2 linked regions of the Homo sapiens genome follow. The protein of the gene in region 1 interacts with the protein of each later gene in a biochemical or structural test. Each region holds a gene or a part of one and is shown in the gene's direction. Other genes may lie near its edges.

What was found.
Region 2: of the proteins of SEPTIN4 (region 1) and AREL1, one has a biochemical effect on the other in vitro, tested with the Homo sapiens proteins (one study listed by BioGRID).

The regions. Positions count from the first base shown.
Region 1 is NC_000017.11:58,541,187-58,548,586, reverse strand, and holds the start of SEPTIN4 (septin-4), read left to right. Parts: upstream 1-4,258; 5' UTR 4,259-4,400; coding exon 4,401-5,961; intron 5,962-6,620; coding exon 6,621-6,665; coding exon of another isoform or gene 6,666-6,821; exon of another isoform or gene 6,822-7,003; intron 7,004-7,400. UniProt on the Homo sapiens protein: Filament-forming cytoskeletal GTPase. Pro-apoptotic protein involved in LGR5-positive intestinal stem cell and Paneth cell expansion in the intestines, via its interaction with XIAP. May also play a role in the regulation of cell fate in the intestine.
Region 2 is NC_000014.9:74,709,955-74,718,215, reverse strand, and holds the start of AREL1 (apoptosis-resistant E3 ubiquitin protein ligase 1), read left to right. Parts: upstream 1-5,135; 5' UTR 5,136-5,283; intron 5,284-8,261. Other genes in the region: rRNA-processing protein FCF1 homolog, read right to left, coding at 2,117-2,265, 3,273-3,344, 4,664-4,731, 5,016-5,018. UniProt on the Homo sapiens protein: E3 ubiquitin-protein ligase that catalyzes 'Lys-11'- or 'Lys-33'-linked polyubiquitin chains, with some preference for 'Lys-33' linkages.

The DNA.
Region 1 (7,400 bases):
AAACCAGCCTGGTCAACACGGTGAAACCCCCCTCTCTACTAAAAATACAAAAATCAACTGGGCGTGGTGGTGCACGTCTGTATCCTAGCTACTTAGAAGGCTGAGGCAGAAGAATCGCTTGAACCCAGGAGACAGAGGTTGCAGTGAGCCTAGATCATGCCACTGCACTCCAGCCTGGGCAATAGAGTGAGACTCTGTCTTTAAAAAAAAAAAGAAATTTTTGGAATAAATTTCAATTGCTCTTTTCCAAATACATTACTTTTGGCTTCTTTCTGAATGCTAATGGTAATGTTATGTACTCATATATGTTGGTATTGGAAGTGGGTTATAGTGAGGTGCCCCCCAAGAGCTCAGAAATAAGTTGGTCCTGTGGGAGTTAAATAAGTAAAATCCACTCTCCTACTGGATACTACTAATTGTATAGTAGAGTAAAATTAAAGGACTTTTAATAAATGCATGGTTGAAAACAATGCTGCAAAAGAAGAGTAAGGAGGAGGGACTTGTCCTACCGTATATTAAGGTGTAGTATAAAGCTGCAATAAACAGTATGGCATTGGCATAAGAATGGTAAGAATTATAGAACATAATAGAGAGTTTCTAGCCTGGGAAATACAGTGAGACCACATCTCTACAAAAAATTTAAAAATTAGCTGGGTGCGGTGGCACATGCCTGTGGTCCCAGCTACTCGGGAGGCTGAGGTGGGAGGATCACTTGAGCCCAGGAGGTTGAGGCCACAGTGAGCTGTGTTCACACCATCACACTCCAGCCTGGGTGACAGAGCAAGATCCTGTCTCAAAAAAACTCAAAAAACCCAAATAGTCCAAAAAACATACCAAAGTATAAAGTTTGGGAATTAAGAATGTAAAACTTCTTTACTGCAAATAATGTCTGGACAAGGATAAAGTCAACAAACTGGGTGGAAATAATTGCAATATATTGGATAAACAAAAAGTTTATATCCCTAATATACAAAGAGTTCTAATAACCTGTAAGAAAAAGACAAACACCTTAATAGAAAAATAGACAAAGAACAATTCACAAAAGAAGCTGTACAGACAGCCAATTAGCATATTAAAAGATGTTCAGTTTAACTTGTAATCAAAGAAATGCAAATTAAAACACGGTTGTTTTTTACCTCACTGATTGCGGAGGACAAGTATTGATAACATCTAAGGTTGCTGAGAGTATGGGGAAACAGACATCTTCATTCACTGTGTTGGGGGTATAAATTGGTACTACCTCTCTGGAGGATATTTGTCAGTATGTATTTTAAATGTGACTACTTTTTGACCCAGAAACTCCATTTAGACCAGTATGACACAGATTCTATTGTACATATGTATCACCTGAGGGTCTTGTTAAAATACTGATTCTGACTAAGTAGGTCCAAGGTGGGCCCCAAGCTCCTGAATTTCTAACAAGCTCCCAGGTGGTGCTGATGATGCTGGTCCACGGACTACACTTTGAATAGAGAGGATTTAGAGAACTTTATACCCTGGTTGCACATTAGAACCATCTGAGGCATTTAAAAAAATACTGGTGCTCAAGCCTTACCCCCAAATTATCTGATTCATTTTGTCTGAGGTGGAGCATGGGCTTTGAAAGATCTCCAGGTGATTCTAATGTGCAGCCAGGATTTAGAACTATTGTCCTAAGGAGAAAATTGGAATATACACAAATATATATTTATAGTAATGTATGTTTATTGCAACATTGTTTATAATATTGAAAAATTAGAAACAACCCAAATGAGGTGGGCTACTCAGTAGGCTGAGACAGGAGAATCACTTGAGCCCAGAAGCTTTGAGGCTTTAGTGTGCTGTGCTCAGGCCTATGAACAGACACTGCACTCCAGCCTGGGCACCATAGCAAGAAAAAAAAGAAACAACTTAATGTCCAGCAGTAAAGGACTCATTTGAAACATTCTGGAACAACCATAAGTGGATTAATTAGAAATTACATCATAGATACAGATTTATTGACAGAAAGGTATTCATAACATGTTATGGAATAATGCTAGTACTAGGATGCTGGGAAGTTTATAATAAGACTATGTAAATTTATAATTAAATGTCTACATAGTAAATGCATAGAAAGAAATGTGGAAAGATGCTTATTAAAATAGTAACGGGGTCCTCTTAGGTGATTTCAACTTTTTATAATTATTTGTAAAACTGTTTTCTAATTTTTTAAAATATTTATTTATTTATTTGCTGGAGATGGGATCTCACCATGTTGCCCAGGCTGGTCTCGAACTCTTGAGCTAAAGTGATCTGCCCACCTCAGTTTCCCAAAGTGTTGGGATTACAGGCTGGGCCACCACACCTAGCCAAAGCTGCTTTCATTTTGGGGAATAGAAAGGGTTTAGAAATACTTAAAACTGGCTGGGCACGGTGGCTCACACCTGTAATCCCAGCACTTTAGGAAGCCGAGGTGGGTAGATTATCTGAGGTCAGGAGTTTGACACGAGCCTAACTAACATGGTGAAACCCCATCTCTACTAAAAAAAAGAAAATCAGCTAGGCATGGTGGTATGCGCCTGTAATCCCAGCTACTCGGGAGGCTGAGGCAGGAGAATCACTTGAACCCGGGAGGCAGAGGTTGCAGTGAGCCAAGATCACGCCACTGCACTGCAGCCTGGGCAACAGCCTGGGCACAGTTTATTTGAAACTCCATCTCAAATAAAAAAAAAAAAAGAAAAATGAAGCTGACCATCCTATAATCTCAATGACCCTTCAGAGTTCATAATAGAATTTTGGATATGGTAGAGTCTATGTCTAAAAGAGAGAATGAGAGAAAGAGCATGTGAAAGGGAGAGAAAGGTGACAGAGTCTCCTCCAAAATGGTCATCCAAATTGGAAAGTCACTTTTCAAGAGAGAACCGGAGTCCGGCTGATTGGATAGCTGACAGGATCATGAGAAAGGACATTAACATTTGTTGTGTGACACCCATGTACCAGGCAGTGGTTTCCAGGTGAAGAAACCAAGTCCCAGGGAAGGCAGGTAATTTCTCCTAGGTACACCTGTAGTCATTTATGATGGAAACCAATGATTAACTCCAAATTCCTTCTTTCTTTCTTTCTTTCTTTTTTTTTTTTTTTTTTGAGATGGAGTCTTGCTCTGTCACCCAGCCTGGAGTGCAGTGGCACGATCTCAGCTCACTGCAGCCTCCGCCTCCCAGGTTCCAGCGATTCTCGTGCCTCAGCCTCACGGGTAGCTGGGATTACAGGCACGCACCACCACGCCTGGCTAATATTTGTATTTTTAGTAGAGATGGGGTTTCACCATGTTGGCCAGGCTGGTCTCAAACTCCTGACCTCAGGTGATCCACCCGCCTCAGCCTCCCAAAGTGCTGGGATTACAGGTGTGAGCCACTGCACCCAGCCCAAATCCCTTTTATTTTGTTTTTATTTATATATATTTTTTGAGATGGAGTTTTGCTCTTGTCACCCAGGCTGGAGTAAAGTGGCACAATCTCAGCTCACTGCAACCTCCAACTCCCGGGTTCAAGCGATTCTCCTGCCTCAGCCTCCTGAGTAGCTGGGATTATAGGTGCCTGCCACTATGCCTGGCTAATTTTTTTGTATTTTTAGTAAAGACGGGGTTTTATCATGCTGGCCATGCTGGCCTCAAACTCCTGACCTCAGGCAATCCACCCGCCTCGGTCTCCCAAAGTGCTGGGATTACAGGCGTGAGCCACCGCACATGGCAAATCCCTTTTATTAATAAAACACTAAACTCTCCTGGAGCAAGAATGTGAGAATTTTATTATTTGAGCAACCTGGATTTTTACCCCAGGAGCAATGAAACAATCCATGAGACCTGGAAAAAGCTGAAGCTCTCTTTTTTTTTTTTTTTTTAACTTGTATACAGTACAGTTTCAAACAAAATTGGGGCAACTTTGTACTTCGTACCTTATTAAAACTGGGGCGAACACAGCGTGTTTGGTTTGATCTTGTCTTCATAGGATCTTCTGGCTGATTCCTTCTCTGGATGAGTCCTGAGAATTTCTAGAATCTCGGGAGAGTAAAGGAGGGTCTGGAGCCTTCTCTATGTACAAGGAAATCCCAGTTTTGTTAAAAACTTGCCAAAGGCTTGGTGATATAACTCCAAAGACAAATCCACAGATTCCTTTCAGGTACTTCTTTGGGATTCTGTGAAGAATTGTGGCTGTACACTAGGATGTTTAATAGGAAGGAAGCTCCTTCCTTTATGACATCACCAGACAGAGAGGTAGCTAAGGGGATTATTTGAGACACTCTTAGAACAACAGCCACTTTTGTGGGAGCCCAAGAAACAGCAGCTTTAAAACAGGGTAAATATTCAGGCATCATTAGGATCCTGAATACAAGCCAGCCAGTAAAATACGGGATCTACTCAGAAGGGCACAATCTATCAGATGGTCAAGACAAATAAACCTGGGGCCAAGGTAGCGGTTTCAGCACAGAGAGGGTCTGAGGTTACTACTAACACATCCCCTCAGCAGGGACATGGGTACGTTCTTGCCTCAAGCCATCGAAGTGCTGCAGTCTCCCTGAACCCTTCCCACCGAAGATCAGAAGCTGCACATCCCACCACTCCCCATTCAGCATCAGACTACCCTCGATCTGTCTCCCTCCAGTCAGGACCTGGACACTATGCAGTACCCACTCCTCGGGGACCCGAGACTGGACCAAGAACAGAATCATCCCGCCATTCCTCTCCCCATCTAAAGAGCCAGAAGACTCAGACACTGGCTTCCCATGCTTCAAGCAGACAATGGAAAGTTAGTCCACCCAGAGAGGAAGCAGCACGAAGAGGCAGTGAGAGCAAGTCAGGGCGCGAGGTCGGCCATCATGCTTCATCAATCCCAGATGCCAAATCTACTCATCAGTTGAGTTTTCAAGACCAGAAGAATAACTTACAATCACAAATCTTAGAAGATGACCCACCATCCAAGGTCCAGAACCCCCAAGGAGTCAGAGTTCCCCGTAGGATTTTGTCTTACCCAAAGGATGAAGCAGTACAAACTGAGCCCATCCAAAGAATTACGACTACTAGTGAGATCAGATCTCCAAGGAGTCCCTCTCTCCTAGAGCACGGAAGCAGCTGTGTCTCTGCAGACTATCAGACAGCCCAGAGAAGGGTCCCTGTAGAAGAATCAGAAACAGGTCCTTACGGTCCAATTCCTTCAAAACCCAAGGCCTTGTATAGGAATATGAACTTGGACTCATTGCTCAAACTCTCTGTCCTTAAAGATTCTGATGGTGTACACCGAGTTTCTGCACGGGTAGACCCTGAGTCTCTTCATAAGTATTCTGCCTATCCTGAAACCAAGCCCTCCGCAAAGGTCTTAGTATCATCACAGGTGGAGTCCAACGTGAGGACCCCAATCCGAGGAAACAGCGAGGTTGGCCGCAGGGTCACCATCTCCCCAGGGGTACAGTCAGTAGAGCCAACTCACCATGTGACAGTTCCATCAGTGTCTGAGGGCTCCCACAAGTCATCCATGTTTGTTACTCCAGAGCCCATCTATAAACAGCAAACCCAAAAACCCCCAGAAATTACTTACATGTCCCAAGGACCTACACCCAGGTATCCAGAACTCTCGCAAAAGCCCTCCATCCATGCAGAACTGGAACTGACCCCTAGGCCCTTGCCTCCTCGGTCCTTACCTAGGTACGGACCTGACTCCTCATGGTGGCCCTTGCTGAATCCTGAAGTTGAAACACCCCAAAGCCAGCTGACAACACCGGATTTTGAGCCTAAGTGCTCTCCTTCCCTAGATCTTTTATTGTCCGGTTTTAAAATAGACTCTAGCCCTTTCTGTGAGGATCTGAAGTTCCAGAGAGAGAAGGCAAGCCTATCACCACCATCACCACCAAAGGAGTTTCCAAGTTGGGCACCACTGAGTGAAGTGCCACAGACCCCCAAGCACACCTGCAAACAACCCATTCAAAGGTTTACTGCTTTCTTCCTGGGTATGTGAAGAAGCAGACTGCCCAGGTGCAGCCCCAATTTAGTGAGATGGGATGTTGGGGTGGGCAGGAAAGACCACCTCTTCATTCTGGGCCTAAGGGCTGCTCTCCTGCCAGTGCCAAAGCTAGTCCTATCCTTGAGCCTATTGCTCCATTCCTTCCCTGCCAGCTTCTCTGTGCTCCAAGCTAATGACATTGATGATGGATGCTTGGGCCGGGCGACAGGCATTGACTCCTCCAGGCAACACTGCTTACCTTTTTAATTGAAGGTAGTAGAGAGGGGCTTGCAGGGTTGAAAGCTGCTTCCTGAGTGGGGATGAAGAACTGAGCTGGGGTGAGGGCTGGCAAGGGCTGTTAAATAGAATAAGGGCCTCAGGTAAATACTCTGGCTACAAAGTGGAGAGGGTGGGATGCAGATGAGCTGGGATTCCAGGAGGGGAAAGGCATTCACAGTGGCACAGAGAGAGGGTGTAAAAAAGAGAAAGGGAGAGTGGGAATACGATATATAGTCCTAGGCTGGAGGAGCTTCTTGGAGAGGACCAAGGGCTGAGGGCACCTTTGAGTGGAGAAATGTGGAGCTAGAAAGGGAGCTGCAAGTAGTGGAGAGTGGGATGTGCATCCCACAGAGAGAAGAAAAGCAACCATCTCTCTGTTACTTTCAGATGTCTCTGAGGAAATGTACAATCGTGTCATCTGGTGGCTAAAAGGTCTGTGCTTTTCCCTCCTATGGGCCCACTGTGGGAGCTTGGGGGATGGGAGGACAGGTGAGGAGTGGCATCTATGTATCTACAGAGCTGGGTCGTTTAGGAGATAAATGCTGGGATTTTGACCTGAAGAAGCAGAGGAACTTCTCATCTTGCTGAAAATTTCACCATTAGAGTCATTTCTTTGGGGCTTGGAACCTTTTCCATTTTCAAGAGTCTCCTTTTAACAGGAAGTTACTTCTGGAATGGAGAATAATTTAAGCCTCATGGCCTTTTCAGCTTAGTTGGTCATCTATCACATGATTTTAAAAAATACACCAAAGCAAACCGCCTGCTTCACAGTCTTGCTCAGAGTTGACTTCACGCTAATTCAGGCTGGGGGCTCTTCTCATGTGTTTCTCTGGTTCCTCAGAACCCTCCTCATGCCCCAAGTTTACCACCTGGGGTACTTATTGGTGCTGCCCAGGCAAGATCTTCAGAGATGTCTGGGCCTCCCCCTTGAGGCCATCAGTGTGTCTTGCAGCTCTAGAATCCTTAAGAGAAGTGTCCCCAGGCCTTGTGACCCTCCTCTCCCTTTATACTCTTGGCCTCTCTGGGGGCAGGGGAGGGTGGGGACAAGACCTCAAGGAGTAAATCTTGGCAGCAGGGACTTCTTGCTGTGAGCATTGTGGCCCAAAATATACTCCAGCCCTATGAGCATGACAGAGGCCAGGGCTATGGATAAAGCAGTTCCTGGGG
Region 2 (8,261 bases), on another chromosome or scaffold:
TTCAAGGTAAGAGGAAGAGAAAGGCCTTCCTTTAAGTATAAAGGCAAGCAAGGCCAGGCACGGTGGCTCACGCCTGCAATCCCAGCACTTCGGGAGGCCGAGGTGGGTGGATCACCTGAGGTCAGGAGTTTGAGACCAGCCTGACCAATATGGTGAAACCCGCCTCTACGAAAAATACAAAAATTAGATAGGCGTGGTGGCATGTCCTAGCTACTGGGGTGGCTGAGGCAGAAGAACTGCTTGAACCTGGGAGGCGGAGGTCGCAGTGAGCTGAGATCACGCCAACGCACTCCAGCCTGGGTGACAAAGCAAGACCCTGTCTCAAAAAAAAAAGTATACATATTTAAAGAAAGCCATAAGACTAAAGCTATCCTGCCTAAAGCTCTAACAGTCACTATCTAGATATTACTGGTGGAGGTATAGAGTCAAGGAAGCAATTCATCAAGGAAGCAAAGGGCCATGCTTTGACCCTCTATCCGTTTCATTGATAAGTAGGTCACAGCATTCCTGGAGAAGCAGCTCAATTAGAAATACCATGGGAAATACAAAGAGACTACCAAGTTTAGTGTCTTCCCCCATATGGGGTCACCCAAGCCTCATTCTTAGAGGCCTGGTAGCACCTCAACTTTAGATTATTTCTAAAAGATTTATTTCAAAAGTTTATGTATATAGCTTTAAAAAGTAATACAGAAAGGCCTATATGAAAAAACAATGGTCCCCTGACCATTGCCACCCAATCAATTCTGATCTGTAGAGAAGACTATTTTATTCCATTAGCTCCATTTTTTTCTCATCTGATGGCTACCTTCACATCTTAATAAACGTATGCAGCTAATAAATGTATGCAGCCATTCTTTTTTTTTTTTAGATGGAGTTTCTCTTGCCAGGCTGGAGTGCAGTGGCACAATCTCGGCTCACTGCAAGCTCCACCTCCCAGGTTCCAGCGATTCTCCTGCCTCAGCCTCCCAAGTAGCTGGGACTACAGTCACGTGCCACCACGCCCAGCTAATTTTTGTATTTTTAGTAGATATGGGGTTTCACCTTGTTGGCCAGAATGGTCTCGATCTCGACCTCATGATCCGCCTGCTTTGGCCTCCCAAAGTGCTGGCATTACAGGCGTGAGCCACCGCGAGTGCTGGGATTACAGGTATGAGCCACTGCGCCCGGCTGCAGCCATTCTTAATTAATTTTTGGGCATCTAAAGAATCTGCTTTCTTACCCCTTCACACATTCCTTAACCCCATCTTCTCATCTTGCTCATTTTAATAAATCAGTAAACAACATTTACCATTTCTATCACTCTGCAACTGTTGTTCATTATATAGTAGCCTTTAAAACTTAAAAAGGGAGGTACAAATTTTTCCCTTTGATTCCAGTAATTTATCCTCTATGGCAAAGTTTAAGTCTAATTTTCATTCGTACCTCTAACCGGGTGACTGAAAAATATATAAATATAAACCCGCTACAAATGGGACAGATCTTACTATGATAGGCTTCATAGATGGCCTTACTTTTCTTTTTCCTGTTCATGGTAGTGAAGGAAGATCATTTAAAGGAGGGGATATACAAATACACAAGGGAAATCTATTAATGGTAAATTGCATACCTAGGTGTAAATAAACTACCTCAGATCCTCTGTACTACGAATAAATACCAAACTGAATAAACTTAGGAATTGACCATCATCTATCTAACTTCTAGGGCTGTGATCATAAATGGCAGAATGTCTTATTTAGTGTTTCAACACTGGGGCAAAAGGGAGAACATATCCTTGTTAACATAAAAGAATATAGATACTGAAAAATAGATTTTTCATTTATCTAGAATTTTAAAATCTAGAATTCTAAAACAGAAAATTCCCCTATGTTCAAAATTGATGTCCATAATGATACTCGAAGCATTCTAAGTGTTTTCTGAATTGTGAAAGTTTAATTTTTTCCAGTCAAGTTTGCATTATACTTCAATTCATTAAACATGGTCACTGCTATGGTGACCACTGTAAATTAAATGGCCAGCAATTCAGTTAACAAGAACCCCATCTCCCTCCTTTCATGTATTTGTATAAATATAATTATTCTGAACAAATGTCACGGAAACATAAAAGTATGATACTCACACTTGGCATACAGACAGTCCATCATTGACTGCACTAAGTCCAGTTTGGCTTTTATGGAAAAGTTGATAAAGTTGGTATCAACGAGGATGTGGTAAGGTGGGCCCAGCTGTGTATTATATTGGAAAAATAAGCAGGAAGGGTGTTGGGGACTGAAGGAAAAAGAAAACAAGAACAAAGAAAAATTTACATTGATACCCTAGTATTAACAAAAACAAAAAAGAAGTCTGCTTGGGACTGTTTGCTGTAAACTCTTTTGTCCATGTTCATTGGAAATAAATCCTAAAAAGGAAGGCAAGGAAGAAAGTAATATCATTATCTTAATCTCAGCTCCCCTGGCAACCTTTGTCACCAACTTTAAAAAAGCAATTATCAAAAACAAACAAACAAAAAAAGCAATTATCCAATCTAGCTCTTCCTCTAGCAAAAGTAGAATCACCATGGGCACAGGGAGGTAGAATACAGTTATCGTGATTAGAATGATACAACAACACGTTTGTCATTCTTAAAGGATTCTAAAACTGCTGTTATGGAATGTGATAGAGAACAGTTTGTCTAGTGTTAGGATTATATACTACAGCAGGACCTGTATCACATCTAGCCCAAGTTGTCTGGGTTGAATATGACAGTGATTCCAAATGCTAGGCCATGGATCAGTATCTACCTGTGATAATATGTCCATTACCAATCCAGGGAAAAATTAGAAAAATAAGGAAAATGTGGTAAAGTTTTCATAAAGTTAAATGTACTTACTTAAAAGGAATGAAATACCTTTATATCTTTATATAAAGGTCATATCTTTATATAAATATCTTTATTCTGAAAATATATTTTAAATATTTTTTGGTGATACAGTCTCTCTTTTATGAACTGCTGGTGTGTTAAACAATGGCACTTATGTCTCTTAAAAGATCCCTGGCAAAGAAAAAGTTAATAATCCTAGATAATATCTCCAGGATTTTAGGGGAAATTTTACTGCTCCATAAAATCCCAAAACCTTCAAACCACTAGAATTGATATATGCTCATCGATATGACTTTCATCTACATAGTTGTGCTAGACTTACTAACAAATAAGTTAGCAAACCAGCTCAGGGAAAGCCTGGATTTCTAAGAGGTCTATGGTTTTAAAGGAAAACTTCAAACGTTTGATTACTCACACTTCTCTTTCCTTTAATGCGCTGGGATCCTTCTTTTCTTTCTTTTTAGGTTTTAATCTATCCTTTTCTTTACTAGGAAGAAAAAGGTAAATTAAATCCAAGGGAGAAGAAAAACCACAGCAATTAAAATCTCAAAAATCTAAAGTTCCATTTTTTTTTTTTTTTGGTCTACTGAAGAAATCCTACTTTGTGATATCCTCATGTTAATATCAGCATACTCTTTCTGAGCAAATAACTCTAGTGCAAAGCACAGTACCTGGAAGTATCAGAATTAACCAGTAATGCCAATAATGCATAAGAATTGTTAATGAGTAAATAAAAGCTGATTATACTATATTTATTTTTTAGTCAGAATCTCTCACATCAAGGATCACAATCCACTTCCAAGCAATGGGTAAAAGGGTGACAGTTATCTTCTGAAGATTCAGATGCTTTAACTTTTGGGGGAAAAGTATTACCCCATATGCTTCTTATAAAGGGCTAAAATGTAAAAACGCATATACAGAACTTAACCCTTAACTAGAAAGAAATTATTATTAATGGAGTGTCATTCCTAAAAATTACACAATACATCCACACTAAAGGCTGAGAATAATAATTCTGAAGGTTTTAACGACTATTCTCTTATTCTGAGACTCTTTTTTGTATTTTTAGTGGAGACAGGGTTTCACCGTGTTGGCCAGGCTGGTTTTGAACTCCTCACCTCAGGTGATCCACCCGCCTCAGCCTCCCAAAGTGCTGGGATTACAGGCGTGAGCCACTGCGCCCGGCTTTCTGAGACTCTTAAACTCAGTGAAGATCAGTCTTTATTTAATAGCTATGCTTATTCTACACTTAAGCAGGGACACCGCTTTGATCCTCTTCATACTAGGGAATTTCACTTCACTTTCTTCTTCCACAGTGATTTGGATTCTTATATTAGTAAGACTTATAAAATGGAGATATCTTGGAGTTTTCCCATTTTCTCTGACAAAAATATTTGAGTACCAGGCACTGGAAACGCCAGACAAACAAGGTCTCTAACCTTGCCATCTTTCAACAAGAAACACTCCCCTCGCCCCACCCCAGGGGAATGTAGTAGTGTAATGGTAAAAACATAAAGAGAACTATACGGACTTCACCGAACTGACATGAGGTTTAAATGCGATATGGCAGACAAAGCATATAACGGTAGAAAAAGTGAACACTTAAGAAATGTTTAATTCCCATCGCCTTTCCCAGTGTGATCGCTCAGCAGCTAAATTACTGTTAAACACTGGCTATCTCATGCTATATAAATCTAAGACACGATAATAAGCAAAAAACAAAATAATAACAACAAACATTTTTACTACTTATCCTCTCTAGACTCTTATTAGAATATCCCTGGGCAGTTGATTCCAGACACTCACAGCCTCTGATCTCTGAGACTAAGCATTCGCTTCATGGTCGCATACTTCCTTGTTTTCTTTTGCTTCCCCTTGAAACAGAAATTTTAGAATTAAAAAAGTTGGAAACACACGGCATCTTTTAAAGTCTCTTCTTTTCTCTTGTCTATTGCCTTCCCTTCTTGCCTCAAATAACCCAGACCCTCTTCCCCACTCTGTAAAGCATAACAGTCACCGCTTGGAGAAGTTTAAGAGCTAAGACCAGAATGAAAATATGCTAGGATAATGTGAAGGAAATTTGGCCACGGTCTGACTACCTCCTTCTCCACCCAAAAAGTGGCCTGATAACGTCCCTTCTTGGACCGTCTTCTCTCACCATGGTCACGCCAAACTCCTGGTTCTTCCGTAATCACCAACGGCGCAATACTTCTACGTCATTCACATACTGCTTCCGGCAAAGGATAGCCCGGAAGCGGAAACTCCTTGGGGAAAGGGCAATCCCCCGAGCCGGTTCCCAGGCCGGGTGGAGACCAACTCTGGGGTCTGTTGGTGGGAGAGTGGGGAGCCCGTCTTCTGCTGAGTGCTGCCGCCCCTTCCCAGGACAGCGGAGGTGGAACTTCGTCGCGCTGCAACCCCCGGCTCGGGTAACGTTTCTCTCCAGCCTTAGGCAGAGCCCAGAAGACCTGCCTTTACCAGAGTTCCAGAGAGAGAGGGAGGAAAAGGGTAGGGGGGTTCAGACTCCTGGTTTGCCCAGTAGTTTGGGGGAACACATTCTCCTCACCCTGTAGCGTTGGGGTATCCGGTGTCTATGGTCCAGCCCTGAGGCTGTGGTTCCTATTTGGTTTTCCTAGCCGATATGGTGCTTTGTGCAGCTAGGTGGATGATTGTTCTCGAGTATATACCGTGTACTCCTCTCGGTGAAGAGAGAAATGAAGCAGTGTTTGAGGGCCTAGACTATCGCTAGAGAATTGGGGCATAAGCTTGCATATGTTACTACTTACCCAAGCCAAGAAAATGGTGAGATACAATGCACATTTATTGTGAAGCCTTGGTGTGTCATCTTTAAGTAAAAAGGGAGAATTTGTGAGAACAAGGAGCGAAAGGTAGCTTTTTTCTTTGAGTACCTGCTATGTATTCCAGTGGTTCTTAACTTTTTGGAGATAACTTATTTCTTGAAAGTTTGTGGAAAGCCAGGAACAATTCTTTAAAAAATGGGCACACATACAGTTTGTAATACACTTAATGAGATTGGTGGACTCTGAAGCCCATCCGTGGACCCTCTGGGTGTCTGTAAACTTTAAATGAAAACCCCCATCCTGTATACTGTACTTGTCACTTTATTCATATTACCTTCTTTGACCTTCTCAATAACATAAATTCTTTTATTTTACATATGGGGAAATTGAGCCCCAGACTTTGTTCAGGGGTCTGTTTGAGTCTCGTGATTCCAAAGTCTGTACTTGTATTTCTTTTTTTCTTTTTCTTTCTTTCTTTCTTTCTTTTTTTTTCTTTTTTTTTTTTTTTTTTTTTTTTTTTTTGCACTTTGTCTTCCATTCTCCAGCTACTGATCAAGCTGGGAACGGAATGGGTACCTCTGTCATACTTTTCTTATTGCATGATGCTATCCTAGAGTTGGAAGTAAAATATGTTATCAGGTTTAAAAAAGAAGGTGACCATTGTATAACCCTTATGATGAAAACACGTTTATTGTTTAACACGAACTTTGGAGTCTGACTGATGGGGTTAAAATCCTTGCTCTGCCTTATAACTCGCCATGACATTGGGTGAGTTAATCTATCTGCATCTCAGTTTCTTTATCTGTAAAATGGAGATAATCATAGTAGCACTCTTTTATTGGGATGTTATCAGGACTTATGTTTATTCATAGTTAACATGCGAGGTCCCTAGAAGAGTGTAAACCAGACTACTCAGAGTGTTTTCTGTTGTTACCATTGTGTGTCTTCCAACTTGAGGATGTGTGGCAGGGTTGGAATTTTATGCCAATTTTATTTTATTTTATTTTATTTTATTTTTGAGACAGAGCCTCCCTCTGCTGCCCAGGTTGGAGTGCAGTGGCGCAATCTCGGCTCACAGCAACCTCCCCCTCCCAGGTTCAAGCAATTCTCCTGCCTCAGCCTCCCGAGTAGCTGGGACTGCAGGCATGTGTGTGCCACCATACCTTGCTAATTTTTGTATTTTTAATAGAGATGGGTTTCACCATGTTGGCAAGGCTGGTCTCAAACTCCTGACCTCAGGTGATCTGCCCACCTCGGCCTCCCAAAGTTCTGGGATTACAGACGTGAGCCACTGTGCCAAGCCCCAATTTTTTTTTTTTTTTTTTGAGACGGAGTTAGTTTCGCTCTTGTTACCCAGGCTGGAGTGCAATGGCGCAATCTCGGCTCACTGCAACCTCCACCTCCCAGGTTTAAGCGATTCTCCTGCCTCAGCCTCCTGAGTAGCTGGGATTACAGGCGTGCGCCAACACGCCTGGCTGATTTTATATTTTTAGTAGAGACGGGGTTTCTCCATGTTGGTCAGACTGGTCTTGAACTCCCGACCTCAGGTGATCCGCCCACCTTGGCCTCCCAAAGTGCTGGGATTACAGGCGTGAGCCACCGTGCCTGGCACCAGCCCAATTTTATTTTAACATAGTTGCACTGGAACTTGAACGTGTTCATAAACCTCAAAACATTAAGTTTTCAGGTCCTGGGATGCTCAATCGCAGGGTGATTTCTTCTGTTGATTTGGGTGTAAACTTTTTCTGCTTCTCCTTTCTCTTTCAGGCACACATTCATTTAGATGGCTTAATAGTTTACATATCTGTGGGCACTGAATTTTTGATGTAGAAATGGTAGCTACAGATACTGTATGTGCCTTCTGCTTTACCCCATTTGTGGTCACTAGAAGTTCCTAATCTTTCTGGAGCAGCTTGTCTCTGTCAAGCTGCCATTCATGTGTAGAGCTAATAGCAACCAGTTTTTTGATGTATCTCTTGGTGATTAGACAATAAGCTTTTTATTGTCTAAAAGCTAAAATAACATGGTCAGTTATTCTTCTTAAACATTTGACTCATTAGTATTATATATAGGTTCAGAGGGAAAATTGCATATCATTAAATAGTAATTTGCATTTAAATTTAGGCACTGACAGAAAAACGCTCTTCTGGTAATGTGTACTTTGAATTTTGGAATCCATGAACAACAACAACTTAAAAAAAGGCCATTTGTAATTTCTATTGTAACCTCTATTGAGAGTGTTCTGATTTCCTTGATTGTTAATACCTAATAGGGAGCTAAATTAGTGTAGGAACACCATGGGGGATAAGAACATACTTAGAAAAATTTGTTTTTGTTGCATTGTAATTTTATTGCAATCTGAGGTTCTTATAGCGTGAAATGAAAGTGGTCAGATACTCTACAGCATTCTTTGATGGGGATGGAAAGTGGGGGATGCGAAGCTGGGAGGTAGTGTTGATTTGTGATGGATGGGAGCAGAAAGTAATTGCTTTTGGGCACATACTTGTGAGGAAAAGAAATGATTTTAGTCCTTCTCAGCAGTCAAGAGGGTTGTTTTGCATTTTTCTGCAGTCTTGAAGAGAAAAAATCACCCAAGGCATTGGACA